Homo sapiens: one gene and its partner. The protein of the gene in region 2 purifies or fractionates together with the protein of the main gene of each other region. This does not show direct contact. Each region holds a gene or a part of one and is shown on either strand. Other genes may lie near its edges. The genes, in order: TBC1D2 and ZBTB43.

What was found.
Region 1: the proteins of ZBTB43 (region 2) and TBC1D2 purify together in Homo sapiens (affinity purification with mass spectrometry; one large-scale study listed by BioGRID and IntAct). This does not show direct contact.

The regions. Positions count from the first base shown.
Region 1 is NC_000009.12:98,206,822-98,210,649, forward strand, and holds part of TBC1D2 (TBC1 domain family member 2A), read right to left. Parts: intron 2,324-3,828; coding exon 1,847-2,323; intron 1-1,846. UniProt on the Homo sapiens protein: Acts as a GTPase-activating protein for RAB7A. Signal effector acting as a linker between RAC1 and RAB7A, leading to RAB7A inactivation and subsequent inhibition of cadherin degradation and reduced cell-cell adhesion.
Region 2 is NC_000009.12:126,811,540-126,815,347, forward strand, and holds part of ZBTB43 (zinc finger and BTB domain-containing protein 43), read left to right. Parts: intron 1-3,808. UniProt on the Homo sapiens protein: May be involved in transcriptional regulation.

The DNA of each region.
Region 1 (3,828 bases), about 29 Mb from region 2:
AAACACCTGGCATCCAAGAGGCCCCCATTATGCTTTACTTCCTACCTGGCTTTTGTGTGAAATGCAAAAATTATTATTCATTCTGATCTCATAGCTTCCAGCTCCCTTCACAGCTATTCTTAGAAGAGGCTTTGCAGGTTTTGTTTCTTCTGGATTTTAACATGTTCAAACAAATGAGAAGTACAGGGGCTTTTGTCAGACTGTTGAATGAATGAAATTTCTACAGACCTGACCTGTGGCAGACGTTTAGTGTGGCATGAAATCTGAACATATTTTCCAAGGAGGCTTCGACTGAGAGGCATTACTGTTGGAGTTTAACTCTTAATTCCCAGGAATTGTACATACACATGCTCAATTTCACCCAATTTTAGGCTGGAAATAGAGTATGAAAAATATCTACCTTTGGGAACCACTCAAATTTGAGTAAGGACACTGAATGTTGATTCTGTGTTAAATAAATGTCACACACCACCTATTCTAAAAAAAAGCAGCATGGCTTATGTAAATTTTGCTTAGGTATATGTGTGTTTAAATTAAATCGAGTGAAAACTTGCTTTGGGAAAATATTTGCAACTATGCAGCTTCTACTGAAATAGCTGGGGCTGGAGCGGGGGGATGACAGTCCCTCACAGTCTTGGAGGGGAGATAGCCCTGTGAACCAGGTGACCTCATCCCCTAACCCCAGTCCCTCCCTGCGTCCCCTACCAATTGGACCAGAAGTGGAAATTATTCCTGGCTGGGCCAATCAGATTTTTTCTTTGGGGAATTTAGAACTGGAACATGAGGGGTGGGGTGGGAAGACTCACTGAAAGGCTCAAGACTCAGGGGCTGAGGTCTCCATTCTAACAGCTTCGATGGTCCCTAAATGTCCAATGAATGAATGGACAGAGGCTGGTCTGCTGAGAGAGAAGGAAGCAGACACGCAGAATGAAGAGAGGCCAGAGGCCATGCAGCTGCAGAGGGCAGCAGAGCAGTACCTTGGTGCTATACGAGCTCAGGTCATGGCATCCCAGGACTGTGGCATGAAGGCTGCCCCCTGGGGTTGTGCAGGGGTGCAGCCCTGCTGCAGACAGCAGCTGCCTTGGCTTCCAATGACCATCTGGTCCTCAGCTGTGTTTTCTTTTCCTGGCTTCTGTGAACTCCCCTTGTAACATTTAGAAAGTCTCTTTTCCCCGGGTCTTCTGCATGGGTTTCACTGAAAGCGAATGATTCCTGATCCAGAGAGTCCTGCCATATGTGAGTGGGGCCTTACCCTGTAGATTCCAGCAGGCCAAAGTTTGAGAGGCCATGTAAGTTGTACGTCCCCAAGCACAAATCAAAGGAGAGAGCAGGGACGAGGGGCCTGGAGCTCTGAGCTCTGGCCCATCTCTGTCTTGAACATGTCCTCTCACCAGCCTGTGGGTGGGGAACCTAGGCTCATGTCTTCAGGTTCTTGGGAGGCTCCAAAGAGAGACAGCAGTGCTCTAAAACAACGGTCCCCAACCTTTTTGGCACTAGGGACCGGTTTCATGAAAGACAATTTTTCCATGGACTGGGGTAGGGGAGGGGTGGCTTTGAAACTGCTCCACCTCAGATCATCAGGCATTAGATTCTCATAAGGAACACATAACCTAGATCCCTCGCATGCAGAGTTCACAATAGGGTTCACGCTCCTGTGAGAATCTAATGCTGCCGCTGATCTGACAGGAGGCAGAGCTCAGGTGGTAATGCTCTCTCGCCCACTGCTCACCTCCTGCTGTGCGGCCCCTTAACAGGCCACAGATGGCTGCCTGTCCACAGTCTGAGGGTTGGGGACCTGCGCTCCAAAAGGTAAAGATCACACCTTCACTGGGCTTTGGTGGCTTACCTGTTCAGGCCCTGGCAGTAGCCGATGGTGGGGTTCTGCCAGGAGAAGGCCAGCAGCACCCGGCGGAGCTTGTCGGGGAAGCTGGAGGTGGGGCAGGTGAAGTGTTTGTTGTTGGGGAAGGTCCGGTTCAGGTCCAGCTCAATCTGGCGGGCAGCAGGGTGCTCGCGGGCCTGGCCCCGGCTCAGCAGTTCCTGGTAGCAGCCTGGAGTGTGCAGGTGCTGGACACGGAGGTGGACCAGCCACCTCCAGACACGAGGCCGGTGTTCACGGGGTACTCCTGCCCGCAGTAGCTGCTTGAGCTCGGCTGAGGGCACAAGATCGCCCAGGGCAGCCCAGCGCTCCCTCAGCGGCCGATCCACAGCCTCGAGGCCCAGCAGGTGGTGGGATCGTGACTCCAATGCCTGGATCTTGGCCAGCAGCTTCAGGTCTTCCACCTCATAGTCGGGCACCGTCAGGAAGCCGTACTCATCATACTTACTGCCAGCAAAAGTGCACGTTAGCAACACCTTGCAGAGCCCTTCCCTAGATAAGGGGTGGTGGTGACAGGGAGGACCCCAGGCCAGGTTCCTGCCCTGCCTTCACTGAGGGTTAACCACACAGCTCTGGGCAGGTCACTTCAGTTCTCCCAACCTCAGATTGCGAATCTGTATAATGCATATGGGAATCCCTGCTCTGCCTCCTAAAGACCCAACGAGATCCTCTGTTGTAAGATGCTGGGGGCCTAGATAGTGCCTGGTACACAGTAAATGCCCAAGAGATATTTACTAATTCTATGCAAATATAAAGGACCCTCTTATTACTCCATGCAGCCTTAGGCCCAAGGAGTCCTGCACTGTGCATACAGAACCCCACTTACCACAGCCAGTAAGCGCAGGGGTGGACGGGGAACAGACAGCACCAATGACAGACAGGTGGGACAGCTGGGGACCCGTTCCAGAAGGCCTTTGATTTATTCAATGTTGACTCACCTCCACTCTGTGCCCTGCCTGCACTATCTCATTTAATCCTAATGATCCTGCAAAGCAGGTGTGTTTGCCTAAATCTTTTTTTTTTCCTTCCTTCCTTCCTTCTTTCCTTTCCTTCCTTCCTTTCCTTCCTTCCTTCCTTCCTTCCTTCCTTCCTTCCTTTCTTTTTCTTTCTTTCTTTCCCTCCCTTCCCCCCTTCCTTTCTTTTCTTTTCTTTTCAGGGCCTCACTCTGTTGCCCAGGCTGGACTGCAGTGCTGCAATCTCAGCTCATTGCAGCTTCTACCTTCTGGGCTCAAGTGATCCTCCCACCTCAGCCTTCCGAGTAGCTGGGACTACAGGCGTGCACCACCACTCTTCTTTTTTTTTTTTTTTTGTAGAGACAGGATTCCAATATATTGCCCAGGCTGGGCTCAAACTCCTGGCCTCAAGCAATCTGCCCATCTCAGCCTCCCAAAGTGCTGGAATTACAGGCATGAGCCACTGTGCCCAGCTCTTTGCACATATCTTATGGAGGCTGAGTACGAGGCTCAGAAAGGTAAAGGGAATTGTCACACGGTGAGAGGGCCAGGGCTGGCTCCAAAGCTCGAGCTCCTGCCACTGGACTACTCAGCCTCCAGGGGCCTTCGAGCATAGCCACCCTCCTTTCTGTTATATTTAACTGCCCATGTCCACTGTGCTCAGCAAGGCCTTGGTGCAGAGGAGATGGCCTGCTTGTCTCCCCTCGTCCCCTCTCTGACAGGCACATCTGGGAGGCAGCCACATTTGGGAGGCAGCCTAGATAAATGGAAAGCATGGGGCTCTGGAGGCAGCCTGTGCCGCAAATGTACTATAGGGCCATGGCAGGGGGCTGCCTCCTCTGAGCGTGAACCATCTCAGCTGCAGCCGCACACTAATGCATGTGAAGATCAGAGGAGGTAGTGCTGTGTAGGACTTGTACATGGTTGGCAGGACCTGGCAGCAAGGCAGCTGGGGAGGAGCCGCCAGCTCACATAGACCAGCCCTTCCTGGGCCGCCAG
Region 2 (3,808 bases):
TAATGATGACATTTTCCTAGTCACTCAGTCATGAAATTCAAAGTCGGCATTGGTACATCAGTTTGCCTTGCATTACTCTTTATTTTATTTATTTCTATTTTTTTGGGATGGAGTCTCACTCTGTCGCCCAGGCTGGAGTGCAGTGGGGTAATCTTGGCTCACTGCAGCCTCCGCCTCCTGGGTTCAAGTGATTCTTCTGCCTCAGCCTCCCGAGTAGCTGGGACTACAGGCACCCACCACCACACGCAGCTAATTTTTGTGTTTTTAGTAGAGACGGGGTTTCACCATATTAGTCAGGCTGGTCTCGAACTCCCGACCTTGTGATCCACCCACCTCGGCCTCCCGAAGTGCTGGGATTACAGGCGTGAGCCACCGCACCCGGCCACATTACTCTTTTTTAAACAGCTTTACAGAGACATAATTCATAAGTAATAAAGAGGTTTTTTTTTTGGTATATTCACAGATTTGTATACCCATCACCACAATCTAATTTTAGAACTTTTGTCTCCCCTCAAAGAAACCCAGTTAGCAGTTGCTCCCCATTTCTTCTACCTGTAGCCACGAATCTACTTTCTGTCTCTATGGATTTGTCTATTCTGGACATTTCATATAAGTGGAGTCATACAAGATACGGCCTTTTGTGTCCGACCTCTTTCATTTAGCATAACGTTTTCAAGTGCCAGCCGTGTTGTCACATCTATCAGTATTTCGTTCTTTTTTATTGCCAAACATCCTATTCTAAGGATATATCCTGTTTGTTTATCCAGTCATAAGTTGATGGAGCTTATGATGGTTTTCACTTTTTGGCTTTTAAGAATAATGCAGTTATGAACATTCATGTACGAGTTTTAGTGTGGACATCATATGTTTTCATTTTTCTTGGGTATGTACCTAGGAGAATTGTTGAATTAACGTGGTAACTCTATGTTTAACTCCCTGAGGTGCTGTCACACTGCTTTCCACAGTAGCTGTACCATTTTACATGCCCACCAGCAATGTATGGAGGTTATAATACCTACACATCCTCACCGACACCTGTTATTGTCTGTCTGTCTTTTGACAGCCATTTTAGTGAGTGAAAAGGGATGTTTAGTAGTTTTGATTTGCATTTTTCTAATTACTAATGATGTTGAGTGGTTTTCATATGCTTATAGGTTATTTGTATATCTTCTTTGGAGAAATGTCTCTTCAGATCCTTTATCTGTTTTTCAGTTGGGTTATTTATCTTTTTATTATTGAGTCATAAGAGTTCTTGAGGTATTCTGGATGCAAGTCACTCATTAGTTACATGATCTGCAAATAATTTCTCCTATTCTGTGGGTTGTGTGTTCACTTTCTTGATGGTATCATTTGTACCTTGTACTACTGCTGTATCTTCCTGCTGACCAGTTCTGTCAGTCTCATCAATGCCACCCCTTTTCCATACCCACTGTTACTTTTTTTTTTTTTCTTTTTTTTGAGATGTAGTTTTGCTCTTGTTGCCCAGGCTGGAGTGCTTTGGCATGATCTCGGCTCACTGCAACCTCCGCCTCCCAGGTTCAAGCAGTTCTGCTGTCTCAGCCTCCCGAATAGCTGGGATAACAGATGTGTGCCACCACGCCCGGCTAACTTTGTATTTTTAGTAGAGACAGGGTTTCACCATGTTGGCCAGGCCGGTCTGGAACTCCTGACTTCGAGTGATCCACGTGCCTCAGCCTCCCAAAATGCTGGGATAAAAGACGTGAGCCACCATGCCTGGCCCCACTGTTACTTTTATTACTACCTAGACTACACTTATTGAAATCCTATAATTAGCTTCTACTTCAGACTTTCTCCTGCTTTAGTCCGTCAGCAGATCAACCTTCCTTAACCATGCCTCACAGCACGTCACTTAGAAGTTTTCAGTGCTGCCCCAATGTAGACGTCTCATTCGGCTTTTTCTAGATTTATCTCCCATCACTCATTGTCACTCATAGAAGGAAGCACAAGTAATGATGTGTGTGTCACCAGGGTTAGTCTTGAGTGAAAGAGAGCCGAGGGAGATCTGAAATGGCTTTCTGATGGTAATTTCACCATAATCTAGGATCTTGCCGTTAGTGTGATTGGACCAATAACTCAGTGTCTTCAACATATCATACTTATGATGTACCAAACCCGCAAGAGATTAAAGTATACAAACCAGAATGCCATGTGATTTATAATTTTTCTTTCTATGTTAATAAGTGAGATTGGCTTGTAGGGTTTTTTTTGTTGTTGGCCAATTTTGATACCAGAGTTTTGTATAAAATTTATGAATTTTCTCCTACCCTATTGCCTTGTCCTCTTCTCCCCCTCTACTTTTTACATTTCTAGTTTTATCATATTGTGTAATCCATTGTATAGTCACATGTAATCAAATGTGCCCTGTGCATTTCCGCTTTGGAGAATTTATTGATGTTCTCTGTAGCCACGTATATTATCATTTTTGTAAATGTCCTACAGACAGTAGAAAAGGAGTATTATTTGTAGAGTATATAGGTATTGCATTAAATTAGCTTTATTGATAGCTGTCTAAACCTATAGATTCTTGTCCTTTGCCTACTTGATTTATTAAGAATTAAAGAGGGATACTTATATTTCCTGCTACAATTACAGTTCTGTTACTGTTGCCTTATTTTCTAACATTGTACTCTGACACATAAAAGTTCACAGAGTAAACTTCATTGTGAATTATAGGTTTCATCAGTTAACAATAAACTTTCATCCTGATTTTTACAGATGAAATTTACATCTGTAAAATTTTTACAGATGAAATTTACATCTGTAAAATGTAAATTTTACATCTGTAAAAATTTTACAGATGAAATTTACAAAGTAAATTTACATTGAAATTTACTTTGATATTAGTATTGTGTTGCTTGACTTTTGTTTTCATGTGACTTTTTTTTTTTTAAACTTTTGACCTTTTTGGTGATAAATTCTTTCAACTTTTCTATGTCTGAAAAAGTATTTTGGGCCGGGCGCGGTGGCTTACGCCTGTAATCCCAACACTTTGGGAGGCCGAGGTGGGCAGATCACGAGGTCAGGAGATCGAGACCATCCTGGCTAACACAGTGAAACACTGTCTCTACTAAAAATACAAAAAATTAGCCGGGCATGGTGGTGGATGCCCGTAGTCCCAGCTACTTGGGAGGCTGAGGCAGGAGAATGGTGTGAACCCAGGAGGCGGAGCTTGTAGTGAGCTGAGATTGCACCACTGTACTCCAGCCTGGGCAACAGAGCAAGACTCTGTCTAAAAAAGAAAGAAAGAAAGAAAGAAAAAGTATTTTGCCTTCACTTTGAAGATACTTTCATGGGTATAGAATTCTAAGTTGACAGGCCTTTCCGCCCCCTCCCCCACCTTCATTTCAGTATTTTAAAATGGTCTCCTGTCTCCTGGCTTGCATTGCTTCTGAGGTTCTCTGTACACAAGGGGCCTTTTTTTTGTCTGGCTGCTTTTAAGATTTTCTCCACTGATTTTAAGTGATTTGATTATGATGTGCCTTGCTGTAGTTTTTTTCATGTTTCTTGTGCTTGGAGTTTGTTGAGCTGCTTAGGTCTGTGAGTTCGTAGTTTTCATCAAATTTGAAAAAGTTTTGGCTGTTGTTTTCACATATGTATAAAATGTATGTGTGTATGTGTGTATTGTTTATATATATAGTTTTCAATATATAAAACTATATATATAGTTTTCAATATATAAAACTATATATATATAGTTTTCAATATATAAAACTATATATATATAGTTTTCAATATATAAAACTATATATATAGTTTTCAATATATAAAACTATATATATAGTTTTCA